3 linked regions of the Homo sapiens genome follow. The protein of the gene in region 1 interacts with the protein of each later gene in a pairwise test. Each region holds a gene or a part of one and is shown in the gene's direction. Other genes may lie near its edges. The genes, in order: CTRC, GIPC2 and VGLL3.

Region 1 (7,391 bases):
TTTTATTTTTTGGAGTTGGGGTCTCTCTATGTCACCCAGGCTAGAATGCAGTAGCATGATCATAGCTTACTGCAGCCTCAAATTCCTGGCCTCAAGTAGTCCTCCCACCTCAGCCTCTAGAGTATCTGGGACTACAGGCATGTGCCACCACACCCAGGTAATTTTTTAAATTCTTTTAGAGTCAGGGGTCTCGCCATGTTGCCCAGGCTGGTCTTGAACTCTTGGCCTCAAGGGATCCTCTCACCTCAGCCTCCTGAGTAGCTGGGATTACAGGCACGAGCCACCATGCCCAGCCAGTTTTTAATATTTTTTAAATGGAGAAAGGGGCCCATGAAGGCAAAAGTACTCAGTGACCAAGTCCAGTCTCAAGCTTTCTCATAAGAACCAGATAACAACAATAATAATAGTAATAGCAAACATTTAGACCGTCCTTGCCATATGCCAGGCACTTCTTCCAACAGCCCTAGGAGGGAGGTACCATTTTCTTTCTTTTTCTTTTTATTTTTTTGAGACGGAGTCTTGCTCAGTCACCCAGGCTGGAGTGCAATGGCACGACCTCGGCTCACTGCAACCTCCGCCTCCCGGGTTCAGGCAATTCTCCTGCCTCAGCCTCCCGAGTAGCTGGGATTATAGGCACCCACCATCATGCCCGGCTAATTTTTGTATTTTTGTACAGACAGGGTTTCACCATGTTGGCCAGGCTGGTCTTGAACTCCCGACCTCAGGTGATCTGCCCACCTCAGCCTCCCAGAGTGCTGGGATTACAGGCATGAGCCACCGTGCCCGGCCAAAGGTACCGTTTTCACTCTCACTTTATAAACGAGGAAGCACAGAGAGGTTGCGTCACAAGCATAAGGCCATAGAGCTATGAAGCAATAGTGGTGGGTTTAGTTCAACCCTAAGCAAAGCACTCAACATCCTGTCTTCAGCATCTGAAACAGATTAAGGGCGACCTCGGTTTTCTCCAGGGACAATTGTTTGGTGCTGCCTTACATAAAAGGTCCCTCCCTGTAGATGTCTCAAAACAAGCAAGTTTCCCTATAGCTGAGCAGCCAGCAACCTCCCTCCAAAAAGGTCAGTTTCTCTGTGAACCTTCAAAGAGCTGACAATAACTCTCTTCACCTGGGACCTCATCATCAATCCATTTGGCTATTTCTATGTTTGTGTACATGTTTGAATGGGTGGCCCATGGCTCTGCTTGGCTCTACACATAACCGAATGCTTTATATGTATTATATCATTGGTGTGTGCATATTTGTGGACGTGGAGGAGCGTGTGTGTGCATGTGTGTGTGTGCGTGTGTGCATGTGTGCATATGTGTGTGTATGTTTGTGTGTGCATGTGTGCGCGTGGGTGTGTGCATTGTGTGCATGTGTGTGTGCGTGTGTGTCCATGTGTTTGTGTGCGTGTGTGCATGTGTGCATGTGTGTGCATGTGTGTGTGCATGTGTGTGTGCGTGTGTGTGTATGTGCGTGTGTGCGTCGCCTGTCCACGTATACTTGTGAATCCATGGGCATGTATACACAGCTGAGATGCGTGCTAACAAGTTGCTGTATCTCTGAGTATAAATTGATGAGCTCCTACAAGGAGACGCCCAGTTAATTCATTTTCCCAAGTTGATCAAGGGACATGAGAGAAACTGAGGCTCAAAGAGGTTGCTCAGGGTCTGGGTCATCCATTCTGTCACTGAGATGGAAACCAGGTGTCCTGTCTCCCCGCTTCAGACCCTGCTAATTTCCAAGACCTATCACCTAGCTCAAGCCATATCTCTGCTTATGTTCCCAGTTTCCAGGCTAGAATGACCCTTTGCAAGGCTTGGCAACCAAAAGCCCTGGGTCTGAAGCAGACTGGCCAGTAGCCACTGATAAACCTGTATCATGCACAACCAACCTCCAAAATGAAACAGAAAATTCCCCGCAGGCTGAAGTCCCCAGACACCCCAGGACTGAGGCCTTGATGTCACCATAGCTGAGCAGAGCCCCCAGTGCACATTCCCACTTTTATCTTTCTTAAAAAATTAAACCTATTGATTTTTATACTACCAAGGTAACTATGTTTGTTTTAAAAAAGAATTTAAGCTGCATAAAAATGTGTAGTTAGAGGCCAGGCATGGTGGCTCACACCTGTAATCCTAGCACTTTGGGAGGCCTATGTGAGTGGATCACTTGAGGTCAGGAGTTCGAGACCAGCCTGGCCAACGTGGTGAAACCCCGTCTCTACAAAAGGAACAAAAATTAGCCAGTGGCACTGGTCCCGGCTACTCAGGAGACTAAGTAAGGTAGGAGAATTGCTTGAACCTGGGAGGCAGAGGTTGCAGTGAGCCAAGATCGCACCACTGCACTCCAGCCTGGGCGACAGAGCGAGACTCCAACTCCATCTCAAAAAATAAATAAATAAATAAACAAACCAGCCTGGCCAACATGGTGAAATCCGGTCTCCACTAAAAATACAAAAATTAGCCGGGCATGGTGGTGGACATCTATAATCCCAGCTACTCGCGAGGCTGAGGAAGCAGAATTGCTTGAACCCAGGGGTGGAGGTTGCAGTGAGCTGAGATCGCACCACTGCACTCCAGCCTGGGCCACAGAGCAAGACTCTCAAAAAAAAAAAGTGTAAGTTAGAATCCTCCTTCACCCCCAGATCACCGCTATGAATGGCGGGGTGCGTAGTGCTCTGAACTTTTCTATCAGGAAGGAATTCCTAAGGTGGCCAGTAGGCCCAGCTCAGAAAATGACCTTCAAGGGGAGCTCAGTATGAGTAGAGGGGAAACGAAAGACAGAATCTAACCAACCAGGCTGAGGCCAGGCCTTGGGGCGAATGGATCAAACCACATGTTCCAAGGGATGGCCAACCCCGAATGCCGGAGGCTCTGGTAGAATTTCTGCTACTCAGTGCTTTGGGCCCTCAGATCTGCCACTGACCTTGACATTCAAGTTACAGAATTGTAGAACTGAAAGGAGCCTGAAAGTCCATCTGGTCCTTTTGCCCATTTTAGAGATGGGGAAACTGAGGACCTACAACTAAGCTGACTCCAGGAAGGAATCTGGCCAACTAAGCACCTTCCAGAGCCTGCTGCATCCCTGCCTCCAACCACAGCCCTGGAGGCAGGTGCAGGAGTGCATCAAGCCCAGGCAATTAGAAAGATGAGACAGAGAGAGAGCCAGGAAGCGATCCAATAGCACTAGAAAGGCAGAGAAGGAGCAGCATGTCTCCACAGCTTGAAGCCCCAGGCTGGTGTTAGAAGCTTTGGCTTCAAAGTCTGGCTCTGCTGCTGCCCAGCCGTGTGACCCTAGATGGTCACTTACCCGCTGAGTCTCAGCTTCCTCACTTTTATTTTATTTTTTTAGAGACAAGGTCTTGTTCTGTCACCCGCGCTGGAATGCAGTGTGGCACGATCACGGCTCACTGCAGCCTCGAACTCCTGGGCTCAAGCGATCCTCCTACCTTGGCCTCAGGAGTAGCTGGGACTACAGGCATGCACCACTGCGCCTGGTCCTTTCTCATCTCACCTCAGAGCAGATAACCGCGTCTATTTCATGTTGTTGGAAGAATTAAGTGAGATAATGCAAGAAGAATTGAGCGCAATGCCTGACACACAGTAGGTGCCCAATAAATAACTAAAAAGAATAAGGTAACGGCCTGTAATCACACCTGTAATCCTAGCACTTTGGGAGGCTGAGGTAGGCAGATTGCCTAAGCTCAGGAGTTCAAGACCACCCTAGGCAACAGGGTGAAACCCTGTCTCTACTAAAATACAAAAAAAAAAAAAAAAAAAAAATGGTGGCACACATCTGTAGTCCCAGCTACTTGGGAGGCTGAGACAGGAGAATCGCTTGAACTCGGGAGGCGGAGGTTGTAGTGAGCTGAGACTCCAGCCTGGGTGACAGAGCAAGATCCTGTCTCAAAAAAATAAATAAAATACAAAAGATTAACCTGGCGTGGTGGCAGGCGCCTGTAGTCCCAGCTACACAGGGGGCTAAGGCACGAGAATCGTTTGAGCCCGGGAGGTGGAGGTTGCAGTGAGCTGAGACTGTGCCACTGCATTTCAGCCTGGGCAACAGAGCAAGACTCCATCTCCAAATAAATAAATAAATAGTATAAGGTAGGGAGAGAGAATGAACACACACGTCAAACAGAGTGGGGTGGGGGATGCCAAAAAGCACTGCAACTCAGAATTTTCTGTTTCAGGATATTTGGAAAATCCATACTTCTAAGAAAGCCCTGTCTCCTGCCCAAATTAAACAGTAACCACCCAAGGTCAGGGAAAGGGCCTTATCAGAGCAGGTTTCTCTCCAAGGGGCGGTTTGGCCTTGACCAGGTGCACTCACCTGCTCCTGCCTATAAGTGTGCCCCAGCCCATCCCGATGGTCAGCCAGTCCTGAGCACCTAACCATGTTGGGCATCACTGTCCTCGCTGCGCTCTTGGCCTGTGGTAAGCGGTGGGGTGGGGCTGCAGCTAGCAGGCTGTGAGCTCGGGCTGGCCTCCAGGGCAAGGACGGGATGGGGAGTGGGGGGGCCTCTGCTCTCCAGGTAAGACACTTTGGGGTCCCCTGTGGGTTCAGATGCTACCAACCAGCTGTGTGTCAGACAAGCCACAGCCTGCCTGCCAACTCTGTTTCCACATCTGCAAAACAGGGAAGATGATCTGACGTGTCCCCAGTTAGAAATGAGGTGTGGAAAGCACCACGCAAGGGGGAGGGACACGAGATGCCTCATCCTGGGTTCACCCCAGGGACCATCGGGGTCTGCCTTTCCCAGCATTCTCTCTCCCTTGAGGATTCTCCATTCCATCATTTTGGTGGCGTTTTCCCAGATTAGGAGCCCAGGGACTTAGCTTAAATGCCACTTCTTCTCTGCAGGACCTGGAAAAGTCATTTCACCTCTCTAAATCTCACTAACTTTTTTGGCAAAGGAGAGCACTTAATGAAGAGTCCTTCCAGCTAACAACAACAACAGTAATAATAGCAGCTCCTGTTTCCTGTGTGTTTACTATGTGCCAGACGCTATGCTAGGCCCCTTACATGTAGGAGCCAATTTAATCCTCAAAACAACCTTAAGAGGTAGGGTCTATTGCCAGGCATGGTGGCTCACGCCTGTAATCCCAGCACTTTGGGAGGCCGAGGTGGGTGGATCACTTGAGATCAGGAGTTTGAGACCAGTCTGGCCAACAAGATGAAACCCCGTTTCTACTAAAAATACAAAAATTAGCCAGGCGTGGTGGCGGGCACCTGTAATCCCAACTACTCAGAAGGCTGAGGCAGGAGAATTGCTTGAACCCAGGAGGAGGTTGCAGTGAGCCGAGATCGCGCCATCAAACTCCAGCCTGGGCAACAAGAGTGAAACTCCGTCTCAAAAAAAAAAAAAAAAGAAAAAGAAAGAAAAAGAGGTAGGGTCTTTTCATAGCCCCATTTTACAGATGAGGACATCGAGGTTCCGTGCGACTTAGTATCTTGCCTGACATCACATGGCAGGTTAGTGGAAGAGGCAGAATTTGAGTCCACGTCTGTCTCGCGGAACAGCACGTGTTCTTGACCGCTCCACACAGCTTCCCAGCTATAACAGTGGATTTACTGCTCTCTCACACACACACCATGATGCAGGGGCCTAAAAACAGACAGAAGAACACAGGTGTACCGGGCACTCGCACACATGCCAGCCAGTTTTGTTTTGTTTTGTTTTGTTTTTTGAGATGGAGTTTTGCTCTTATCACCCAGGATGGAGTGCAATGGCACGATCTCGGCTCACTGCAACCTCCATCTCCCAGGCTCAAGCGATTCTCCTGCCTCAGCCTCCTGAGTGGCTGGGATTACAGGCATGCACCACCACGCCTGGCTAATTTCTGTATTTTTAGTAGAGACAGGGTTTCGCCATGTTGGCCAGGCTGGTGTCAAACCCCTGATCTCAAGCGATCCACCCGCCTTGGCCACCCAAAGTGCTGGGATTACAGGTGTGAGCCACCGTGCCCGGCCAAACGCTTTCTTTTTTATGTGTTGTCTAATTCAGTTCTCAGGGCAAACTCACCGCATTAGTGTGATTCTTCACATTTCACAGAAAGGGAAAACAAGGCCTAGAGACCTGGGTGGCTTACCCCCGTGACACAGTAAAATATCAACCCCGTGTCTGCCCAGCCCCAACTCTGTGCTTCTTCCACCTGCCCACCCTCCCACCCCTTTCCCCGTGGGCTACCAGCCCTATTCACTGGTTCTTCTGGCCTCCTGTCTCCCCAGCCTCCAGCTGTGGGGTGCCCAGCTTCCCGCCCAACCTATCCGCCCGAGTGGTGGGAGGAGAGGATGCCCGGCCCCACAGCTGGCCCTGGCAGGTAAGCCTGTGTAGGGCTGGGAGGTACAGATAGAGAGGGTGGCGGGGTGAGGGTCCCAGGGACCTGCAGGCTGACACACAGCCCTCCCCACCCTCCTGCAGATCTCCCTCCAGTACCTCAAGAACGACACGTGGAGGCATACGTGTGGCGGGACTTTGATTGCTAGCAACTTCGTCCTCACTGCCGCCCACTGCATCAGGTGTGCGGGGATGATACCCTGAGACCTGGCCATCGTCCGGGGGCGGAAGCCTGATACTCTGCTTTTTCTGAGCAGCTTCTCCGCACTCCAGGCACTGGGCTACATAATCTACTCACACCCAGTAACTCAGTTGTGCATTTAGTCAGTCAAGTATTCATTGTGCATCTATTATGTGCCAGGAACCAGCAGTGAAGACAAAGTCTGTGCTCTCGGGAAGCTTATATTTTTGTGGAAGACAGAGCGGCAGACAATTAAACAAATATATAGCATCTCAGGTGATTTAAAATAATACTAATAATAAGGTATTGGCCAGGAGCAGTGGCTCACGCCTGTAATCATAGCACTCTGGGAGGCCGACGCAGGCGGATCACCTGAGGTCAGGAGTTCGAGACCAGCCTGGTCAACATAGTGAAACCCCGTCTCTACCGAAAATACAAAAATTAGCCAGGCGTGGTGGCGGGCACCTGTAATCCCAGCTACTCGGGAGGCTGAGGTAGGAGAATCACTTGAACACGGGAGGCAGAGGTTGCAATGAGCCGAGATGGCGCCACTGCACTCTAGCCTGGGCAACAGAGTGAGACTCTGTCTCAAAAAAATAAAAAATAAAAATAAGGTCAGAAGAGGACAAACAGAATGAGGGGTTCAGTTTTAAAAGGGATGGCCAGGGGAAGAGCTGAAAGGGGGATATTTGGCAAATATTTGGGACATTTCGGAGAGCTAAAAGGGGGTTATTTGGGCAAAGGCCTGAAGGAAGTGAGGGAGGAAATCATGGATCTAGGAGAAGGGTGTTCCAGGCGGAGGGAACAGCCATGCAAAGCCTTGGAGGAGAGACCTGTCAGTATGGTTGAGAAATAACGCGGAAGCCGGTGTGGC
Region 2 (7,000 bases), about 63 Mb from region 1:
CTGGATTAGAAAAAGTTAATTATATGCAGAATAAAGTATTGGTCATCATAGCATAGTACGCATAATATTTCAGTGGTTCACTCTGAAACAGAAGTAACTCACTAAAATGAAATGCACACCAAGGAGATTCCATTTTCATAGCCCATTTCCCCAGCAAGCAATTACCTCAGCAATAATGATGTAAACAACTTTTTTTGGTTGGTTTTTGTTTTTTGAGATGGTGTCTTGTTCTGTCGCCCAGGCTGGAGTGCAGTGGCACGATCTTGGCTGACTGAAACCTCCACCTCCTGGGTTCAAGTGATTGTCCTGCCTCAGCTTGCCTAATAGCTGGGATTATGCACCACCATGCCTGGCTAATTTTTGTGTTTTTAGTAGAGACGGGGTTTCACCATGTTGGCCAGGCTGGTCTTGAATTGATATCCTGACCTCAGGTGATCTGCCCGCCTCGGCCTCCCAAAGTGCGTGAACCACCACGCCCAGCCCTGTGATGTAAATAACTTTTGAGATGTCAGTGGGGACAAAAACATTTGCCCCCCTTAATGGGATTGAATAGATAGTTAACTCAGAAGTCCTGCCTTTTTTCTAGAGTGGTGGCTGTAAGGATATAAATAGCACTACATGAAGAGCTAGCCACTCTTTATTGAGGAGAAAGGGAAAAGACTTGATGTCAAGTGGAGCAGATAATCAGGGCCCATAATGTGCCCACAGCTGTGCTAGGCCTGTAAGCCTACAGTGTGTTCACTCCATCCTCACCAGAATCTTTTCATTTTACAATTTAGTGAAGTGAGACTCTGAGAAGTTAAATAGGCTGGTATGTGGCTGAGCCAGGATTTGAATTCTGGTTTCCTGGTTCTAAGTCTATTACATAGCAGCTGTGAGATTCTTGGTAGCTGCATTCAAATTCCAAATACGAACCCAGAAAAACCTCTTTTTTTTTTTTTTTTTTTTTGAGATGGAGTCTAGCTCTGTCGCCCAGGTTGAAGTGCAACGGTGTGATCGTGGCTCACTGCAACCTCCGCCTTCTGTGTTCAAGTGATCCTCCTGCCTCAGCCTCCTGAATAGCTGGGATTACAGGCACACGCCATCATGCCTGGATAATTTTTGTGTTTTTGTAGAGATGGGGTTTCACCATGTTGGCCAGGCTGGTCTCAAACTCCTGACCTCAGGTGATCCGCCCACCTCGGCCTCCCAAAGTGAGCTGGGATTACCGACGTGAGCTACTGCACCTGGCCGGTTCCAAGTCTATTACATAGCAGCTGTGAGATTCTTGGTAGCTGCATTCAAATTCTAAACACTAACCTGGAAAAACGTCTTTTGTAAACAAATTTTTTTTTTCAATAAAAGCCTCAGACTTAACCACAAAAATATTTATTGCCTCAAAAAGATGTTGATGTGAGACTGACAGTTGTGGACTTCAGCTAGTGTTTTGTGGTCCCTGAAGGAATAAGCTAATGAAGGCTGTGAATCAGTTAAGATTTGTTATTAAGTTGAGACAGATGGCCAGTTATGCAAAAATCCCTCATATCTGATGCCTTTTTTCAAAACAATTAAATGAACAATTCAGTAAAAAGAAAAAAAACCCTGTAAATTAATCTCATCTAAAGAACAATTAACTCCTACATAAATGCAAAGACTCTTCTTGAGAAAGTTTAATACATACCATCTTTTTTTTTTTTTCTTTTTTTTGTGACGGGAGTCTCGCTCTGTCGCCCAGGCTGGAGTGCAGTGGTGCTATCTCAGCTCACTACAAGCTCCGCCTCCTGGGTTCATGCCATTGTCCTGCCTCAACCTCCTGAGTAGCTAGGACTACAGGTGCCTGCCACCATGCCCGGCTAATTTTTTGTATTTTTAGTAGAGGCAGGGTTTCACTGTGTTAGCCAGGATTGTCTCGATCTCCTGACCTTGTGATCTGCCCGCCTCAGCCTCCCAAAGTGCTGAGATTACAGGCGTGAGCCACCGTGTCCGGCCAATACATACCATCTTTTAAAATATCCAGGTTACATGAAACTCTCGAGCTATGGTCATACATTTTGTTGAAGGGGCATTTTGAATATTTGACTACTGTAATTGTTTGGCAAGTAGTTTTTACCATGATATATTTTCCTAATTCTCTATTATGTGGAAATATTGTAGGAAAAAATAATGAATGTGAAAACTTAAGAAAAGACGTATAATAAAAAAAAGAACCCCACTTTGCTCAATACATTCATTTTGTAAAATGTAAAAAAAAAAAGAAATGATGTCATCATTATTGATCCTTGGACATTAAAAGAATAACAAAGAAATATTATTAACAAAAAAAAGATAAATTTTATAGTTAGAAATTTTACATGTCCAGAAACTGGAAATTCAGATGCAGTTTCTCTGCAGAATTCAGAAATTACTTCCTTTTACTTGTTTAGATTAGTTTGCGTGTGATATTAGATACCAAATAGTTCATTGAATAATAAATGAGTAATTCAGTGACTTATTCTCTCCCCATACATAAAGCAGTCAAAGAAAGCAGAGTACTTGAGAAGCAGAAAAGGCAAGAAGTGTTATTCTTTTTTTTTTGAAATGGAGTCTCACTCTGTTGCCAGGCTGGAGTGCAGTGGTGTGATCTCGGCTCACTGCAACCTCTGCCTCCCGGGTTCAAGTGATTCTCCTGCCTCAGCCTCCTGAGTAGCTGGGACTACAGGTGCATGCCACCATGCCCAGCTAATTTTTGTATTTTTAGTAGAGACGGGGTTTTGCCATGTTGGCCTGTCTTGAACTCCTGACCTCAGGTGATCTGCCTGCCTCGGCCTCCCAAAGTGCTAGGATTACAGGCATGAGCCACCGCACCTGGCGTAGAATTGTGATTTTTAAGGTGAGATTTTATCCTCACAAGCATGCTGTTATTTCTCTTAAACAGACAAACCTTCTTTTGACACCTGTTCCCATCCCCTGTATTACCACCTCATTTCTCCTTTTTAGCAAAACTCTTCAAAAGTTGCTGTCTCTGAGATACAATTTGTATCTCATTTTCTGCTCTAAACCTTTCATGGCTTCCCCTCTCACTTGGAACAAACCAAAATACTATGATGGGCTACGGGCTCTGTTACCTCTTCAGAATCGTTGTTCCTTCTGCTCCAGCCAGACTGGTCTCCTTGAATGCTGGAGCCTTAAGACTTTTGCATTGGTTTTTGCCTCCGCCAGAACCTCTTCCTACAGAATGCCCTTCCTTAAGTCTGTTCAAATGTCATCTTCTTGGTGAGGCTAGCACTGATCATCTCTAGGTGCAACACTCCCTGTTCCCTTCTCTGCTTAATTTTTCTCCGTAGCATACTATCCTATGTATATTTAACTTATTTTGTTTATGGTCTGCCCCCTTGCCCCAATAGAAGCTCCACAAAGGCAAGGATTTTTGTCTTTGTTTACTGATGTGGCCCTCAAGGGCCTAGACTTTGCCTGAAACATATTATAGTTGGAGTTTAAAAAATAGTTGTTGAATAAAAGGATCCTCACCAATTCAGTAGTTAAAACCTAGTGTCTTTAGCATAAAGCTTTAGTATTGATTACAATACTAATATCTTATGTAGGTGTTAATTTTTTTTATGTTCTGCTATGAGGAAAGAGACTAGCCTTTAGGTGGGGGTAGTGAGGAACATCACTCATATCTTTAAAATTTTTTGAAAATAAATGTATATATTTAAGGTATACAACACGATGTTTTGATATAAATAGTGAAATAATTATTACAGTCAAGCTAATTAATATATCCATCTTAGAAACTATGAAATTTGAGGCTCTGTTTGCAAGCATAGTCACTTCCTAAATGAGTTACAGCATATGAGGAGCTGCTTCCTGAGGCTTCCCAGAAGCTGCTTCCTTTTCTCAACTTGCTGACACTAGCACTGAGCTCTTTTGAAAGTCAATATTCTGTATTTATGTGGTACTTCTAGAAGACATGAAATGTTCTGCAGACTTTATCATTTCCCAGCAGTGCAAATAACTGGCAAGTGGAACTGTTATCTTTCTGGTTCACAAATGGGAAACTAGGACGAATAGAGAAAATAGGGTTTTACTGATTTGCATATAGCACCCCCTGCCCTGGAAAAACAAGTTACAAAAATCTACAAAAAATGAAAGAATTGGGAATTGGGTGTGAATATTACTATTGAGGTCTGAGGAATATGAAGTAAGCCCGTCAAAATTGAGTAGAAAAAGTGTGAGAAGCAGTCCCTGACATCTGGTAGGGGCCTTGGCACTTGCAGGAAGGCCTTGGCATTCTGTTGCACATAAACAATTGCACAGCATGTCAACAGCAGATAAGACTGCTCTGACTGTGGTAATTTCTCCTACCTTACAGATAGGTTTACTAAGATTCCTGGTCATAGAATTGCACCCATTTCCTGACAGCACCCTATCCAGAACAAACCCATGCTTTGGACCCTCTCCCAAATCACCTAACACAAGCCCAAATCCTTTGTAATGTCTCTTTCTGAAACCCCCAGGATTTCCCATAGAGTGCTGTCACCCTCCTCACAAGGAGCAATAAACTGCAGGTGAGAATCCCTGGTGGTCTTTGCCTGGAAGGTGTTGGCAGTTGTCACTTGTCACTGTTGGGTTATTACAATGCAGATTCTAAAGAGGCAGCCTGAATTTGGTTTCCCTGACTCCACTCATCCTCTTTTAGTATTTTAATGCTGTGATCATACCAGTCTAATCTTAGCACTTTGGAAGGCTGAGAAGGGAGAATCCTTGAAGCCAGGAGTTTGATTGACAACAGCCTGGGCAACATAGTGGTACCCTGCCTCTTAAAAAAAAAAAAAAAAAAAAGCCAAAAAAAAAAAAATTAGCCAGAGGTGGTGGTACGTACCTGTAGTCCCAGTATTCAGGAGGCTGAGGTGGGAGGATCACTCAAGCCGGAGTTTGAGGCTGCAGTGAGCTATGATTGTGCTGCTACACTCCAGCCTGGGCAACAGAGCAAGACTGTCTAAACAAACAAAAACCTGCAAGGGGCTCCTCATTACTTACAAACCAATTACTACCAGCCAAACAATGTCTCATATTCCTGTCTGCCTCTTGAGTCCTCTCCTATGCCCACTGTTCCAATCTCACTTCTTAATAATCCCCTTTACATTCAACAATATTTAACTGTTTCATTCCATTGTGCTTTTTCTCATGCTGTTCTTTGTTCCAGTAACTCCTACTCACTTTTCTAGTCCTGTAATTTCCTCCAAGAAGCCTACCCTGTGAATCCAGAAATCTGGATACCTGCTATTGCATGATTTTTAACATAGCATTTGCACATAAGATTGAATTTAGTTACTCCTCTGTTTCTTCCTGAGGGCTGGGACTTTTTTCCTTTTTAAATCTTGTTCTTAGATGGTTAGCTAGATGGTTTAGCTGCTCCTTAAAAGTTTACTAAATAAAAGTAGATAATGGATATAGTAGGAGAGAAAGCTGAGGATATAGATAGTAGTAAGACTACAAATGTCCTTGAAGTTGTATGGATTTTATTCTGTAGGCAATGAGAATAACTCAGATCTTTTTCGGAAGAAGCAAGGATCCCTGACACATATTTTACAAAGTAGAAGCACACTCAACCATTCATTCTCTGTATTTTCTTTCTAAATAATATTCAGTTTAAATGGAATATAATGGTATTTTCTGGATTTACATCATACCATCTGAGAAGTTATAAATATATCACAGTCATTATGTAGGCTTGATATCCCCTCCTGAGCACCAGCCTCATTTTTATATGAAAAATTCAGGCAAGAAAAACATGACTCATTTTGAGAAGTGGGAGGAGAATCCAACCAGCTGCCTTATAGACCTCATTGCTGTCAGGAGGGTATGAAATGGATAAGACTGCTGTTGTGCTAGAAGTACCCTGAAGAAGATATCTGAACAACCCTAAAATAAAGTTTACACCCTTGGGCAGGGGTAGACTCCTCTTCAAACCCTGGCTACCTGTAGGTTAATAGCCAGCCCCTTCACATTCTCCCACCTGCAATCACCAACCCAGCTACCCTGAGTGGAGTGGAAGGCTCTTGCAGGTTATCTTGGGCAATTTGTATGTATGTATATGTCTGTCTGGCTGCTGTAACAGACTATCAAAAACTGAGTTGCTTCTAAACAACAAAAATTTATTGACTGGGAAGTCCTAGATTGATGTGCCGGCCATGTGGTATCTTGTGGGAGCCCACTTCCTGGTTCATAGACAGCCATCTTGTTGCATCCTCATGTAACAGAAGGGGAAAGGGAGCTCTCTCTAGGGCCTCTTCTATGCAGGCACTAATCCTATTCCTGAAGGCTTGACCCTCATGACCCAGTCACCTCCCAAAGACCCCACCTCCAAATACCGTCACCTGGTAGGAGGTGGGGGATTAGGCTTGGGGACACACACATGTTCAGTCCATATAAATATTTATATTAAAATGTATAGGGAGGTAAGGAAGCTTAGGACAGCTTCTGCAGCTGCACAGTCAGGTTCCATGGACAGTTGGAACGTTGCTCATTCTGTTCAGGTTAAAGCAGTAGCTTTATACTGTAGAGAACTGAGAGCAAGTCTAGTTGTCCTTAACCTTCCATCTCAGCCTCTCTCTCTCCCTGCTTATTCTACTTTTGACTGATTCTTTCTTCTCATCCTCTTGACTTTGCTCCTCCCATTATTACCTCACCCCACTGTGTCTTTGTGTTTCTTTACCTCTCTACTTTCTGTGCCCTGCCTGTGTATCTTATTAAACTTCCTAAGAAAGAGTCTTTGTTGTGTCAGGGTACAGCACAGGTGGGACAGGACCCTTGGGCCTGTGGGTCAGGTTCATCTCTGCTCCAGCCTACAGGGTCATGTGGTACAGAGGTAGGTGAGCAGTGGATAAGGAGTCCTGCAGGAGAGAGCTATGCACATGGTAGATATTCTGAGACATCTTGATTTAGGGGAACGTAAATGGCAGACACCTTCCATGGCCTGTTTAGAAAACGAAAGTATTTTCCGTTCTCTATGACCTTTATGCATTGTTCTCTTTATCTG
Region 3 (8,037 bases), on another chromosome or scaffold:
ATAAAACTAGAGGCGGGGGGTGGTTCACCTCACTAATTTCCAGTTGGAGAATTTGGAAACAAACATTTTGAGAAATTTGGTGGTGGGGGCAAAAATGTAGTGACTGTAAAGTCACAATTCAGAAGAGTTGGAAATGTTTAAGTCCATTTATTTAGATCAGGTACCACATCAGAATTGAACCAGAAAAGCGGTGGAGTAGTGTAAAAGGATAAATCAAAGAAGGGTAAACTTTGAGGAACTTTAGCTCAGAACTACATAGAATTAAATTCCATACCATTGCTGCTTTTTCCAAGTAATTGTGACACCCTTACATAGCAGAGACGACAATGAGTACACCAGCGGTCAGATCACATTCTCTGATCTGAGTGACTCACTCTTGCTAAATGCAATTGGCCCGCATCCCCACCCCATACACACACTCCTCTTCTTCAACTCCAAGTTGACCCAAGGACGATCTGATCAAAAACTTCTTCCTTTGTATATGTATGTGTGTGTGTGTGTGTGTGTGTGTATATATATATATTATATATAATATATATTATATATATATTATATATAATATATATTATATATATTATATATAATATATGTATAATATATATTATATATATAATATATATATACACACATACATAAGTAATATCTAGGAATATGTACACACATGTATAATGTATGTATGCATATACATATGCATATGTATTTGTTTATATATCTTTATTATGCAATTATGGAAAGAGAACTAAATCAAGAGTCAAGAGAAACAGGACTTTGGTTTTAGTTCTGCCACTAGTTCCCTAGAAGACATTAATCAGATCATATATTTACTTATCTATGAAAAAGGATGTTTTAAGCTTGATGATCCTTTTTATTATTTTCCACTTTAAAACCCTAAATAGTTACCCAGGGGAAGTCAGGTACATCTGCTTTCCTACTAGAACTCAAATGTAGATTTCCCTAACATGAATTATCGGAATTTTTATTAATGACCTCACTAAGACTGCAGGCTTTGACAAGCTATTTTCTCTCTCTGTCCACTTCTGTAGATTCTAAGTCTAGGTAGAATTAATCTTTACTCTCTTATCTTCTTCCAGCAGTACACAATATAGAAACAAAGAAAGGTATCAAAAAAGATATTGCATTGTAGGAAGATTTTGCCAAACACCTACAGACTTTTGTGTCCATGACGTATTAGTACCAAATAACTTTTTTTTGTCATAGAATAAATATTTGCACTAGAGGCCATAGGGAGCACGGAAGATGCAGCAATGAGGGGTATGGACATGTTGAATCAAGTTCTGGCTTTATTTTATCATTTGGAAAATATATATAGAATGTCTTCGAAGTGTTAGATATGGAGATGAACAAGATATAAATAACCTCTGCCAAAGTCTAGCTAAAAAGACAGATATTAAACTCATAATTGTACAAAAAAATCAACTACAGATAAAAGTTATTTGAAAAAAGTTGGAGGCATTAAACATTTGAACAGGAGGTTTGGCATTGAGAAGTGGCTGTCCTCACAAATTTGCTCTGTGTCCTAATTCAGTCACTTTATATTCTAGGTCCTATTTTTTTTTAACATCATAAGGATTTTCTCAATCTAACATACAGCAGAAAGCCTAAGACAGAGTTTGAAATCATATTCTACATTATAGCTTCACTGATTTTATATGTGCTCAGATCCCACCAAGAATTTGTAAGTTATTCTAATAGTTTTTGTTTCTCCTCCTATTATATACTTTACTTATTCAAAGAATATTTACTAAGCCAGATATCATATGATTGAAATTTAGTGAAATTTAGAGATAAAAGTCACAGTCTCTCCTCTCAAGCAGCCATGGTCATATTGGGGAAACAAGCAAATAAGCAACTTCAAATCAAGTAGTTAATTATTAGTATGATGGGAGCGTATTCTTAAAAGAACAAGAGCTGGTGAAAATAGGAGCATTAAAGCTGATCCTCATCGGATGTTTTGGAAGACAATTACATGAAGAGCAAGAAGGAGTTAACAAGTGAAGAGGGTGAGGGATGTGTTGGTGCAAATGCTCTGCTCATATGTAAAATGACATGCTGGTAGAAAGTACCACGGCTTCTTCGCAGAATGCAGATCTCAATTCAGATAGCTGGTAAACATTTGCAGGAGGTAGTGACATGGGCAGGGATCAGAATCTGAAGGTTAAAGAGTTGTTTCTACAGACTGCGGGATGTGACTGTGAAATTTTTAAAAGAAGAATGAATCATCATTGCACAGTTGGATTTGCAGTGGCTGGGTCATTAAAGAGTAGTATAAACTATGAAGAACAGGAAGAAGTCTCGCCTTGGGACCCGGAAATCACTAAGAGTCTCTTGCAGGAGTCTGAGTGAGAGATGCCGAGCAAACTAACGATTATAGCAACAGAGATAAGGAGAGAGTCAGTAGAAATGGAAAATTTGGGGTCAACTTGACTCCAAGACCAGGTGTGGGGACTGTGAGGAGAAGGAAGGAGTGCCAGAAGATTCCCACATTTCTAGCTGGGACAACTGGTAGTGGGGGAGTTTCAGTAGAGATGAAGATTAAAAAAGAGGATCAAACTGGGGACATGAGACAATCAGTACTATTAGGATTGAGGTCCTTATGTAACACCTATGTGGAGCTACCTAGAAAGAACTGAATAGATAAATCTGGAACACAGGAAGGGATCTGATCAAAGGAGGTCAATTTGGGAAAAGACAATAATAAACGTTTAAAGTAAATTATGAAACATATTATTGCTGGAAATACTCTTGTACTACAAAGAGCACAATTTAAAGTCCAAGAACTGTGCAAACCCTTAATAAATATGTTTTTAATATTCAGTGATAAAATGATTGAATAAAAGCTGTTGCGGCGTAGCAAAAAGTTCCTATCCAATTTTTATAGTGTCAGTGTGTGTGTGTATGCCTGTGTGTTTATACATGTGTATGTATCTGTGTACCTAGACATACACACAGACACTTATGTAAACATTAACGATATATGATAACTGTATATCTGCATTAGTGTGCTAGGGCTGTCATAAATACCACAAACTAGGTGGCCTAAAAAAACAAATTAAGCTGGGCATACCGTGGCTCACGCCTGTAATCCCAGTACTTTGGGAGGCCGAGGTGGGCGGATCACCTGAAGTCAGGAGTTCAAGATCATCCTGGCCAACATGGTGAAACCCTGTCTCTACAAAAGTACAAAAATTAGCCGGGCATGATGGCGGGTGCCTGTAATCCCAGCTACTCGGGAGGCTGGGGCGGAAGAATCACTTGAACCGGGAGGAGGTTGCAGTGAGCCGAGATCGTGACATTGCACTCCAGCCTGGGCAACAGAGCGATACTCCGTCTCAAAAAAAAAAAAAAAAAAAAAAAGTTAATTTTTTCATAGTTCTGGAGGATAGAAGCACAAGATAAGGTGTGGTCAGTGTTGGTTTCAAGGTGAGACCTTTCTTCTTGGCTTGTAGGTAACTCACTATGACTTCAGATGGTCTTTCCTCTTTGACAGAGCAGAGAGACAGGGAGTGGGGTTTGGGGGAGACATAGATATCTCTGGCGTGTTTTCTCTTCTTATAAGGAACCTAGTCCTATTAGATTAGGGCCCAACCTTTTAAATCTCATTTAACCTTATCACCTCCTTATATGTCCTGTCTTCAAATACAGCCATATTGTGGGTTAGGGCTTCAATATATACATTTTTGGGAAGACATAATTCAAACTATAAAAACATTAGTGCATTTGACTTTCAAACTGACTTTTTCTCTGAGAAAAGATAGACTGTAAAAATGAGAGATTGCTGTGAGTCATAAAAGAGGATGCCTACGTATAAGGAGAGATATGTTTGCTGAATCTCAGAGCTAGAGTTTGCTCATTTATAAAATGAGGCCCAGTGCGGTGCCTCATGCCTGTTATCCCAGCACTTTGGGAGACCGAGGCAGAAGGATCACTTGAGGCCAGGAGTTGGAGACCAGCCTAGGTAACATAGCAAGACCCCTTCTCTATAAAAAAAAAAATTAAAAAAATTACCTGGGCGTGGTAATGCACGCCTGTAGTCCCAGCTACTCCAGAGGCTGAGATGGGAGGATCTCTTGAGCGTGGGGGTGGTAGCTGCAGTGAGCTGTGCTCATGTCACTGTACTCTAGCTTGGGCGGCAGAAGGAAACCCTATCTCAAAATAAATAAAATAATGTGAGTATAATTATTTCTACTGATTATGTCAGAATACAAGTATATTCTCACAGACGTTTTTTTCCCCATTTTGGAGAGGGTCAGATCCAATTGCAAAGAGATAAACCTTTATTAGCGAATGGGCTTAATCAACTACCCTTTATTGCTCTGTGAAAACCAGGCTGTAAAAGCCAGAAATGGTGGACGTCTCACAGCAGTGTCATACCATGAAGATGTAAACTTAAAGCAGAGATTGCTTGTGGAAAACTGTGTTGCATTCTTGGCATGTGGGCACTTGCAGAGATGTTAACTTTCACTTATGATTATTTTAATGTAGGAGCTAATCCCCGTGTATTCTGCGCCTGCTCTGTTTTACCCCTTTGTACACTCGGCTTTTGTTTGGTCCCAGCCTCTGAGTTGGTGTTCCCTGTAAAATCTCCTTGGAGTAGGGAAGCCCTCGCCCTGGCGGCCAGGTGACAGAGACAGGGTGGGAACCTGCCGAGCCTTGAGGGCGCGGAGCCTCTGCATACCATTCCCCTCCCACCACCATCCCATGCTGGGAGGCGGAGAGGGCTGCAAACTTCGCTCCAATCCGCAGCCAGCCTTCCCCGGGGTCCCCCTGCAGGGTGACCCGCCCGCTGCAAAGCGAGTTGGAGAAACTTTGCAAAGTTCCGCGTCAGAGCCTGGGGAGGCAAAGTGCTCCCCCTTCTCCCCGGCGTTCCCCCTCCCTCTGCCCCCGCCTCCCTGTCCTCGCACAGCCGGGAGCACCCGTGATAGGACGAGCCCCGGGCGTGCATTGTGTATATGCAAACCGGAGCTGGGCTCCCCACGGCTGCCCGACCCGGGCCTGGGCTGTGGCTGTGACTGGCGCTGCCGTGGGCGCCGCAGCCCTCGCGGGAGCCGGACGCGGTAATGCCCCAGCGGCGCAGCGGGCGGCTGCGTCCCTGAGCCGCTATATAAGCGCGGCAGGGAACATCCGGAGGGGCTGAAGATGAAGGTGCCCGCGCATGGGCCCCCGCTGATTGCCAGTCCCTCCCGACCCCGCGCCCCGCGCGGAGCCCGAGGCCGCCGAGGACCCGCCTTCGCCGCAGTAGCAGCTGGAGCAGCGACAGAGGCGGCAGCTGCGGCGGCGGCGGCGCCCGCGCCCCTCGCGCCAGCGCGTAGAGCGGCGGCGGCAGCTCGGGGGCCGCCACTGCCCCGGCTGCCATGAGTTGTGCGGAGGTGATGTATCACCCCCAGCCTTATGGAGCGTCCCAGTATCTGCCCAACCCCATGGCAGCGACAACCTGCCCCACAGCCTACTATCAGCCGGCGCCCCAACCTGGCCAGCAGGTGAGTCACCGGACGGGCAGCCTGCTGGGGGCGGGGGCGAAGGGCATCGAGAGTATCGGTCTGGGGCTCGGCGACGTCCCGCCGGCACGCGTGGCGCAGAGGATGCTCTGGGATCTGCGGGAGCGTCCTTGAGCAGAAAGCCATCCCGAGAGAGCCGGGAAGGGAGAGCAGCAGGGTGGACGGGTGGGTGAGGCATGACCTAGCTGGGGGCTTCATTGAGCTGTGGTCACCGGAGCTCAGAGGCTGCTCCTCCTAGGCACCCTAGCTCTTAGGACTCAGTTCTCTGAAGCTCACCAAGGGCATCTATCTTAGGACCATGTGAGTAAACTTCCTTTCAACCAACTATTTTGTTTATTTGGAAAGATGGAATGTTTCAGGGTTTTATTGATGAGGAAGATGAAGTGCGCTGACAGAGGTAGGGGAAGCTACCTGGAGAGTGAGTTCACGAAATGATCTGGGACTTTCATGGGGGAACACTGGTCTAGCATAATGTCTATCGGGTGTTACTAGAACTTCTCCACAGAATCTTTCTCCCGGTGACTGTGACTTAGAGGACAGGGATGGATTCCAAGGTTCTTCATTCATTTTTTAATTCCAGCAAAGCACAGAGTTTGTACGTGTTCAGTCTGTTGACAGTGGGTCCCTCGGCCAAAAGGTTACCTTGAATCTCTGGATGCTGAGTCTCCACTCTTCCAAGAGTAACTGAAGATGTCCATAATAAGGGGTCGTGAACTGAGGAGATGATATAGTTACTTTAGAAGGAACAGTAGAGTTCTGGGGAATTTGGCACGAGGCGCCCTTGGACATTACTCTCTGGATACAACGGAGAGTGTGCCAAGGCTTAGTTAGTGCTACATTAAAATAAAAAATGTATGTGGCAAGGGCTGTACCAAAATAGAGTCCACCTCAGACTATGGGAATTAGGGTGGGCGGATTTGGAGAAACTTAAAAAAAATAACTAGATTTGGTTAGGAAATTACCATCCATAGAATATATTGATTTATTTCTTTTTACTTTCTTAGGTACCACATGTTTTATTGCAAACCTTCTTAGGTTTGGGCTGTTAATTAATCTGACATTTTACTTTCTGTATTTCCTCTACTTCTGTCTCTTTGCTAGAATTACAGTGCTACTCTTTAGAAAGAAATCTAACTTTCCGTTTAGAATTTAGGAACTATGAAATTCAGCTAATTCTGGAAGGGTACATGCCCCAGATTCATCTGCTAAATAGTACCAGCTTAACCAGAACCAATTAGGGCAAAAGAGGAAGGAGCCCTACTTTCTTGCTATCCTCTTAAAAAAAATATTCAGCAGCACCAGCATTTCAAAGCATCTCTGATATTACAGAGGTCTTCAATTATCATTTGGAATGTGGATGAGCAACAAACTAAAACTTCTCTACATGTTCAGAAAGATACTTTCCTCCTTTATAAAATAACAAACTAGTAGAAGTTGTTTCAAATATGGCTTTATTTTTTAGGGTTGTGAAATTAATGAATCTGTGGTGTGGAGTTAATACTGTAACACTTTTTTTTGAGCTAGAAAATAACATTCGGTATCAGAGAAAATGGCAAATTGCCAATCATAAAAGTTTTCAATAAGAAATGACTCCAGTACTTTATATAATGTTTGCAATAGCCCTGAGACTCGGTCCCCAAATTCATTTCTTTTGCTAAAACCGTCAACATACTGAAGACAACAATTTTAAAAAGTAAAAAATAAAATAAAATAAAAATCAGGAAAACTCTGACCATTGAGCTTCTTAAAAAGAAAACAATTTATCTACATTGATTGGTTACATAATGATCAACTTCTATATTTTGGGCTTTTGTAGACATTGCTTAACTAGATGTTAGGCTGAGTGAGCCATAGGGAGGTGCTTGGAAATTTTCATGTTGCTTTTTCTTCTTTTTCTTCTCCTTCTTCTTCTTCTTTTTTTTTTTTTTTTTTTTTTTTTTTTTTTTTTTTTTTTTTTTTGGTCAAGTAAAGAAACTGTTTGACCATAACTGGCTAACGAAATAAAAAAAAAAAGACTTGACAGTGTAACTACTGTTCTTTTAGTGTCAGAAGTTTATTTTGATGACCTACATTTTCTATTGGAAAAGAGAGTAAATCAGGAAATTCTTATCAGGCTGACAGCATTTTTAGACTATGCAATGCGTGGGTGAAGTGGGACTAATATTGACTTGGCCCTAATGCAGTCATCCGAGAATACATATTTTGGTTGTTTTTGCATTCCATAAGGTTTTATCATTATTATCCATGAAGATTGTTTTCTCCGTACATGGGAAGTGACCCCTAATAGCATCTTGCCTGGGAGACAAAAGTAAGGGCTACAACTCCTACTGAATTTGAAAAATTGATTTTTGGAGAAGGAAAAAATGGAAAAGGAGCGAAGAAAAGTAACAGCAATCAAGAAATTTTAATAGCCATTTAAAAAATGCTAGAAAAGACAGCATTAAAGTTTTATATTACTTCTGTATTCAATTGTAGTAGTGTATCTGTCAACTAATTTCCCCCTCAAACTGTATGGCTCTGA

The links.
Region 2: the proteins of CTRC (region 1) and GIPC2 interact in binary tests that used the Homo sapiens proteins (3 or more experiments, as listed by UniProt).
Region 3: the proteins of CTRC (region 1) and VGLL3 interact in binary tests that used the Homo sapiens proteins (3 or more experiments, as listed by UniProt).

What each region holds. Positions count from the first base shown.
Region 1 is NC_000001.11:15,434,073-15,441,463, forward strand, and holds the start of CTRC (chymotrypsin-C preproprotein), read left to right. Parts: upstream 1-4,370; 5' UTR 4,371-4,392; coding exon 4,393-4,432; intron 4,433-6,227; coding exon 6,228-6,319; intron 6,320-6,420; coding exon 6,421-6,518; intron 6,519-7,391.
Region 2 is NC_000001.11:78,048,966-78,055,965, forward strand, and holds part of GIPC2 (PDZ domain-containing protein GIPC2), read left to right. Parts: intron 1-7,000.
Region 3 is NC_000003.12:86,988,079-86,996,115, reverse strand, and holds the start of VGLL3 (transcription cofactor vestigial-like protein 3), read left to right. Parts: upstream 1-4,966; 5' UTR 4,967-5,372; coding exon 5,373-5,498; intron 5,499-8,037. UniProt on the Homo sapiens protein: May act as a specific coactivator for the mammalian TEFs.